Linked DNA regions of Homo sapiens: region 2 is linked to region 1. The links come from fine-mapping of genetic effects on gene expression. A gene starts in region 1. The other region holds a variant in brackets. All regions are shown on one strand. Distances are between the middles of the regions.

What was found. PIP is the estimated chance that this variant, and not a neighbour inherited with it, causes the effect.
Region 2: its variant is the best candidate, but not a certain one, in a credible set for the expression of CRBN in pituitary (GTEx, PIP 0.71).

Annotation. Positions count from the first base shown.
Region 1 is chr3:3,178,188-3,182,593 of GRCh38, forward strand. It overlaps CRBN (cereblon), which reads right to left and starts at 1,504. Exons shown (of 11, transcript NM_016302.4): 1 at 1,434-1,504. The coding sequence starts at 1,500. RefSeq lists a silencer at 1,568-1,737.
Region 2 is chr3:2,288,455-2,292,860 of GRCh38, forward strand. All of the region lies in intron 2 of CNTN4 (contactin 4), which reads left to right. Among named protein-coding and RNA genes, the nearest start is that of CNTN4-AS2, 150 kb to the left of the region's middle. The variant T/G (reference allele first, on the strand shown) is at 1,946.

The DNA of each region.
Region 1 (4,406 bases):
TGTCTCTGAAAAAATAGCTCAGCTTTCCATCAAAGGCTGGCACACTTACCCTTGTGTCAACTCAGCTAGAATGGCTTCGAGAACAACCAGTGACTATGGTTTATTTTTACAGAAAAGTTCTCTCCTATATGGTGGGCACGCACTCAGTCTCTTCCTCTTTTAATCCATGCTGCTACCAGTGGACAAATTAATCTTCCAAGCATAGATTTCTTTAGGCAATTACCTGAAACCTAAAACTGTTTCTTGGCAATCCACAGGAAAAACCCAAACCCACTGGCAAGAGATGCCAGTTTCCCAGCAACTTAGACCCAATATACCTCCTAGGCCTTATGTCCCACAACCATATCCTAAATATGTGCTTTTAGATGTCTCCTGATCTACCTGAAAGGCTTTTTCCCAAATCCTCTGACCCTTAAACAACCTCTGCCTCTGAAGAGCCACAACAGCATTCATTTATCTGGCCCTAAATCAACCGCCTCTGCAGTTGATTTACGTTTAGTTATATTCTCAGCAGCCCCGCCTAGACAGTAAACCTCAATTATCAGATTGTGTATTACCTCTCGTTTCATCTCCACAACACCTAACATACTTGTCATATAACGAAGGGACTCAAGTAATACTTTCAAGTTTGGATGATACACCTTTTGGAAAGCATCTCTTGAAAGGCATTCCATGAAAAGTTTATGCAATATTCCATGCATTTTTTTTTTTGTTCAGTATTTCAACACAAGGCCAAAGTCTAAACATTTCACACAACATACAGGAAAAAGAAAAACTAAGTATCTCTGATTAAGCATAATCGTACATGCCTGAGAAAGACCGATAGTAAGAAAAACAAAACAGAGAAGTGGTTTAGAGATATAATGACAGACACACCCGGGTTGGAATCCTGACTCTGCTGTGTGACCTTGGGCAAGTCATTGAACTAATCTGCAAATCCAATACTCGCTTATCAAATCGGAAACTGAAAACTGATGTGGGAAGGATTAAAAGGCGACATGCATGCAAAGCGTTAACTGCACGGCTCGTAACATGGTAAGTGCTTAGTACATGTTAGCTGTCACTCTTATTAAAAGGAAGGAGACCAGCAAAAGTAACCGCTGTGAATCTGACCCGGTCCTCTAGTTTCAGAGCATTTCCTAGGAGCTAAACTCAGAACACAAGGAGGATGGAGAGGATGGGTTTCCTGTTCTTAATAGCAAATGCTCCCCCCGACACCCTGGCTCACGGCTCGGGGCAACAGAGCAGCGAAGAAAGCGCCGCGACTCCATCGCTGGCCGAGGGCCGACGTGAAGCAGCTTTCCGGTGCGGCCCTGCTGGGCTGGCTCGCCAGGCTTGGCGCCCCCACGCCCGCCTCCCAGGCCCAGCTGCACCGCTAGCGGCTCCGAGCCTCGCCCCACTCCCGACTACAGGGAACTACTCCGGGCGGTTACCAGGCAGGAGCGGCAGGTGGTTGCCCATGTTGTGCGCAGCGTCCTGCTGATCTCCTTCGCCGGCCATGTCTGTTTACCCGCAAAGGAGGCTGGGACAGGGCGGTGCCGAAGACTCCGAGGGAGGGCCCGTGTCGCGCGGCTGCCGCGCACCGGGGCCACAGCGCCCCCTGGCGGCCCCAGGGGAGCAGACGGCGGCGCGTACCCAAGCCTGAAAGTGATGGCCTAGGCGGGAGGGACAATTACAGGCCTGCGCTCCGTCCCGGGGACAGAACGCCGTCCCCTGCCATCCACGGCTGAGTGCCCGGCGTACACGCTGCAGAGCCCTCACTTTGTTCCAGCCCTTAGCATGACTTATTTAATCCTGATATTTTGCATATGGAGAAACTGAGGCTGAGAGCCTTTAGTCTCCACCTTGTTTTTAAACGAAGGGGGCAGGGAGCAAATAGAAACCTGTTCATGCAGCATTAGTTTCAATTCTTAAAATAAGAAGCATATATGTGAAGGCTGGGGAAATCCATCAGTTATTCCGAGGGTGGTTGAATTATTGCTGATTTTCTTCAGTAGTTTCAATGTATGTACATACAACTTCAATAACTTCAGTAGTTTCCATATATGTACATTACATTCCAAAATTAACAAGTATTAATCAGAAACATACTTGAAATGATGATTGCACAGAATGGAAAACGCCTTATAATTGGTAAATAAAATTGTCTGAATATAAACTAGCCTACTCATTATGACTTCAGCTATGTAAAAACAAGTCACTGTGGCAAAAAAGAAAGACTATGTAAAAAATGAAGATAATTCTGTTATAATGGTGGAGTTGTGACTGGTAAGATATTTGTTTTGGAGGGAGGACAAAAGTTTTCGTAGTGTATTTCAGTATCACTTTTTCAGCGAGGAAGGAAAACTGAAAAATCCTTAAATGAAATACAACATCTAAACATGGTAGTGGTGGTGGTGGGCGGAGGCTGAGAGGAAGCAGCAGCATTGCTCAACAGAAAAGTCATGGATCTGAGATTTGAAAAAATGATTTCAGAAAATTTGCCTCCCTGATAAGTTACAAGCAGAAAACTCCCTTGTGACAGAGGCTTGTGAATCATTCCTGTGTCATTTTGCCTCCTGTCTCCGAATCAGTCTGTGGTCTTCGTCAAATCACTTATGGCTGCGGGCCTCAATTCGCCCATTTGCAAAATAAGAACGAACCAAATAGTGTCGCCTATTTGTTCCAGTTAATAATGTCTGCAACATGAATCATAGCATCACCTTTTACGATGAGGTTAATAACAATTACATATACTACGTAATGATTTAACGGAGTTAAGGTGATCACTCCAGTCAATTGAAGGATGATTCTATGCCAGAATGCCAGCACAGAACGATGAGGGAATGGCCGGTGTATTGGTGTGCGTGTGTGTGTGCCCACGTGAAAGAGAGAGAGAACGCAAGCAAGCAGGGAGCATGCACTAAGTAATATGTGTGTGTGTTTGATGCTGTAACATTATGTCTCACTACAGTTTGTAGAATTTCAATAACCTGTGCTTACGTGCAGTAGAATTTTCTTTACACAAGCATCTAGCTTCTGAATAAGTAAGCTCTGACTTTCCAGTCTTTCTCCCCAGAGGTGATACCAGAATTGTCTGAACCCTGGGTCAATCAAGACTTCTCCGGACGAGAAAGCACAGCTGCAAGGCTGGTGGAGTCTACAAATGTGGCTGGAGAAGCACTGGCTCTTTCTCTGTTCTTTTGTGCATTGCTACAGATCACCGGAGCTCACATCTGTGTATCTTTTACTCCCCAATTCTCCTCCTCTCCTCTCCACTCTTCACATTCACCACCTGCTCCCTCCTTCATTTTATCCCTCCGGAGTCTACCTAGTCATCCACAGCTACACCTTTCAGTAGGGATAACAGATGATCATTGAACAAAAATATCTAAGCAAGCAGGTTTCTTGGATTAAGCACTGGTTATTAAAACCAAAAGGAAAACATGGTCATTTACCATTTGTTTAATTTGGTAACTTTATCCTGAAAGAAGATATCATACTGAGTTGTTCCTAACATTTCCTCTTGCTTGCGTGCAGTATCAATGGATAAGGAGCTCTGCAAGCCAGAGGGAAAAGAAATATATATGTTCATAGATCACTGTCTTACAGCTCAAGAATTAACTTTAATAGTACAGAATTAAGGGTGGTAGAAGACGGGAGAAAATGTAAATGAAAAGGACCATCGCTCTTTCCATTTCTGGCTTCTACACAATATTAGCAGCAAGGAGCACATAGACTGGGAGAGGACATTTCTGTCTCCCTTTATATTGTATTTTCTCTCTCTCTGTCTCTCTTCATATATATATATATATATAAAATTTTTTTTTCTCGAGACAGGGTCTTGCTCTGTCCCAGGCTGCAGTGCAGTGGTGCAATCTTGGCTCACTGCAACTTCCACCTCCTGGGCTCAAGTGATCTTCCTACCTCAGCCTCCAGAGGAGCTGGGACCATAGGCACCAGCCACCACGGCCAGCTAATTTTTGTATTTTTTATAGAGATGGGGTTTTGTCATGTTTCCCAGGCTGATCTTGAACTCCTGAGCTTAAATAATCTGCCCACCTCCACCTCCCAAAGTGCTGGGGTTAAGGGATTAAGGATGAGCCACCATGCCCAGCCTCTACATATTTTTTTAATGTGTTAAAGAATGCTACTACTCTGGTCTAAGCGGTTGATTATCTCTTGCCTGGAGTATGGCAATAGCACCAACACTGGTTTCTCGGCTTCTACCCTTAGCTCTCACAGTGCTTTCTCAACAAAGCAGTCTGAGCGATCCTGTTAAAACACAAGTCAGATTATGTGACTCCCCTGCTCAGTACCCTTCCTTGGCTCCCCATCTCCCTTGCAGTGGCCCTTATAATGCACAGTGGGCCCCCAATATCCTGCCCTGATGTCACTTCACTGCTGCTCTGTGGGCTCTCCCTCCC
Region 2 (4,406 bases), 890 kb before region 1:
AAGCCATTTTTGAGGTATCTATCTCCCTGACCCAAATACTTCCCATTAGGCCCCTCCTTGCAACATTGAGGATCGGATTCAACATGAGATTTTGAGGAGACAGACATCCAAACTATAGCAAGAGGAAGTTGCTATAAAAACAGATCAAAGAAATTGGGAAAGATTGCAACACACTGAGATCCTTAAACAGTTTCCATTTCAAATGGAATAGATAAAGCCATACTAAGTATAAAACAAAATATAATGAAAATGTATGTTATCAAATAAGTGGAAGGATTGTAAGAAGAATATGAATCTGGAAATCAGAATGAAAGAAAACAATACAAGTTTTGTTTTGTTGGTAGGAAAATGTTGGCTGGAAAATGTTAAATAAAGATATAAATTAGAGAAAAGAGGGATGTTTGTCTTGAATGTTCATTCAGTGACATAGGGAAGGTGGTGAAAAGCAAGAAATTCCAAGGAATAGAGTTAAATGAAGGCATTTTATATGAGTATTAAAGATAGGTAGCGAAATTCAAGGTACACAGAACCATCTTAAGGTCTGAAAGGCCTTAAAAATAATCCAATCCCATACCCAGTGAATGGAGCTTGGCCCTATATTCTTGAGAAGTGCTTGCTTAGTATAGACTCAAAAGTACATTTCTTATAAGGCTATACATTTATAGTTTTAAACAGCTTCCCAATGCCTATCATACATTCGCTTTAGAAATATTTTAGAAATATTATTTTAAAAAGAAATATTTTAGATGATTTCTAACATGAATGATGGAGTGATAGGTACAGGGAAGGATGAGAGACCAGGTCCCCTAAAACCCAGAGAGACTAAATGTCATTTGGGACTTTTGCACAGAAAGAGGAGCATGGATTTGACCTATGTTTCTCATTGCATAGAGATATCCTAGGAAGATTTCAAAACTTTTGTATGTTTAGTTTTCTCATCTGTGAAATGGCGATAATAATAGTATCTATAAGACAGAGTTTCTATAAGGATTAAATGGATAGTATATGTGAAGACCATATCATGGTGCATGGCACATTTATGATGTTCATTAAACGTTGCTGTTAATATATGAGAAGGGCTGAAGACATCTGCTTTAAGTCAGCATTTATTGAACACAGTTCAGGGGAGGAAGATTGGATTACATAAGATGGTCTTCCTGTCCCTTCAAATCAACTTGGGATTTTTTTTTACTTTGGGCAGCTACCTTTCAACCTTCAGTGCTTCCCGCTTCCCCGTATAAATATAAGAGAAAATAAGATAATGAAGAATGAACTATAAAACAATTTAGAGGCTTCTTGCAACTATATCTGGTTTTGATCTCTTTCTAATTTTATTCCACTTACTGCATTTCTAAGAATAGTCATTGATGTGTAAGTTATTACGATAGTGGCTGAATAACATTAAAAATATTTTATCATGAAGTAGTTCTTTCTAGACATTTGATGATTGAAAATTTCATACTACCTCTCGGAAACTTGGAGGCATAGTTTTCAGGGTTACAGAATGTTCATTATTAGTATTTAGTATTTTTTAGATTAAAATTCCCATCTTAGGGTGTACCTTCTCTGAGCCAGTCATTTTCTTAGATTTTGAAACTTTTCTACACCTAACACGATGGAGTAACAGGGACTGGATTTATCTTTCTGCCCAAAATAACAACAAAAATGTGGGAAAAAATGAAACAACAGTTTCTAGACAGTAAACAATAACAAGCAGCACAGAGCATTGATCCCAGAAACAGGGGCAATGAAAGAGACAAGCGTTAGAATTGTCCTGGCTTACATTTCAAAGAGAGCTTCCGGGCCATAATGCAGGAAGGGGGAAGCCAGGTGGATCCTGGAAATATCCAGAGTGATTATGAGAAACTGATCAGGCTTGTCTTGGTATGTTATGACTTGAATAACACTGCACTAATTGTGTTTTATGGAATTGACATTGGAACAT[T/G]CATATCTTTACATTTATACGTACAACACCTGTTAATGAAGTACTTAGTAAGGTCTGTGGTTGCAGTTACAGGGGAAAATCATTAACGATGATGGTGAAGCAAGAAAGGCTGGATAAAAAGAGAGAAAGACGATACGTGAGACCTAAATAAGTGAAAAAATGAGGGGTCCATTCAAGAGAATGAAAAAGTTCAGTTTGAATGAAATCACAATTGTCAAATCAGAGACATGATGAAAGAACTACAGGTAAGCCAGGCTACACAGGGTCTTAGAGCATCTTAAAGATTTGTGTATTGTTGCGAGGGAACAGGAAGCCATTGAAGAGTTTAAGCAGAGTGTGAGATCATTGAGTATATACTGCTGGGGTCTTTGGATGCTAACTAGAGATAACCATTAAAATTTTCTGACTTAAATCTGATGAGAGGAAAAAACTTATTTCCCTTTCAACAGAAACTTCGGGTCTGAACTTTGTAGAGTTTATTGTGGCTAAAATGACCACGTTTTTCAAAGAAAAATCGACACTATAGGATTTTTTAAAATGACATGTGAAAGCCTTACATTATAAATTAAATCACCATCTCATATTCAGCTGCATTTTTTAAAAGAATCCAACTATATATATTGAGTGTCTTGGTCACTTTGGTCCTGACTTATACTGTAGCTGTACTTTTGAATAACTGCATCTGTCCATGGCCACTGAGAATCTAGACCCCATCACTGCAGATGTGATGATATTTTTGTTATTCTTATTTCTTTGCTTGGATTTATGTAAATTTTTTTACCCTTCCAGCCTACCTAACTACATTATAATTTTTTTGGTATCAGGGAGTATATAAAGGCTGTGTTCGTCCCCAGTGCTAAGTACAGACCCTAGGCATTCAATACATTCTTGTTCAAATGAATCTTATGGAGAATTCCAACCCATATAGGAGAATTCTCACTATTCAAGAATTTATCTCCAAATTTTCAGCATCATTTAAAAATGACAAATAAATTTTGACATGCAATTAGACTAGCAGAGTCACCCTAGTTACAACTGGTTCCTATCCTCTCCCCCTTTAGATATTTGAAGAAAATAAAGTATGTTAAAAGAACTCAAAATAAATTTTTAATTATGATATTATGATTGATGATTATTGAATGCATGCTAGCTTTTTTCCCTACTGTTTATTCTATATTTCACCATAGGATAATGCTAATATAAAATTATTAAAGGATTAATTCACTGAAGTCCTTATGATAAAGTATTTGGGGATCCCTAAAATTCTTCTGAGTTTTAAGTGGCTTATTTGTGTTGATTTGTTTTGAACTATAATATTTTATTTTATTTTATTTTATTTATTAACTTTTTTTGAGATAGAGTCTCGCTCTGTTGTGCAGGCTAGAGGGCGATGGCAGGATCTTGGCTCACTGCAACCTCCGCCTCCCAGGTTGAAGAGATTTTCCTGCCTCTGCCTCCCGAGTAGCTGGGATTACAGGCATTCGCTACCATGCATGACTAATTTTTTTGTGTTATTAGTGGAGATGGGGTTTCACCATATTGGTCAGGCTGGTCTCGAACTCCTGACCTCAGGTGATCCACCCGCCTCAGCCTCCCAAAGTGCTGGGATTACAGGCGTGAGCCACCGCGCCTGGCGAACTATAATATTTTAATGCCATTTTTTACAGTAAGTAAAATATTAATCCATCACATAATTAACCGTTAAAATGTCTCATGCCCATTCCCTGTCTCATTTGTAAAAAGTGGTACTTGTATTGTCACTTCTACGGCACTTATCTGTCCCACACATTTTGGCAACAGATTATTTTTCTTCTGGATTCTTCTCTAATAGTGTTATATTTATAAGCTTGTCTCTTGCACAACAGAATGAACTTCACAAGGGCATTGGCTTTTCTTCTATCTCTTAGTGAATAATTGTCACTTAGGATTTATTGAAACACAGTACCAAACATGTATTAGGTACCCCACTGATATTTGTTAACTTGAATAAGTTGAATATGACAACTTTGTTTTGCTTTGTTTTATTGAATTTTTCAGGATTATTTGTATGCAATAAAATGCTCATATCTGAAGTGTACAATGTGTTAACTTTTTGACAGCCATTAACTACTACTCAGATAAAGATATAGTATATCTTCATAATTTTCCAAAGTTCTTTTATGTCCCTTTTAGGTAGTAGTCTCCACTGTACCCCAGGTTACCACTTTTCTGACTTTTTATCCCTTAGAGTATTTTTACTTGGTCTAGAATTTCTTATAAATAGAAGCATATAGTATATACTCTTCTTTGCCTTCTTTTGCTCAACATTTTAATATTCATACATATTATTCTATCTATCAGTAGTGTGATCTTTTTCAATTCCAGATAGTATTCTACAGATGAATATATCACAATTTATTCCATTCTTTTGTTGATGGACATTTTGGATGTTCCCAGTTTGGGACTACTATAAATAAAACAG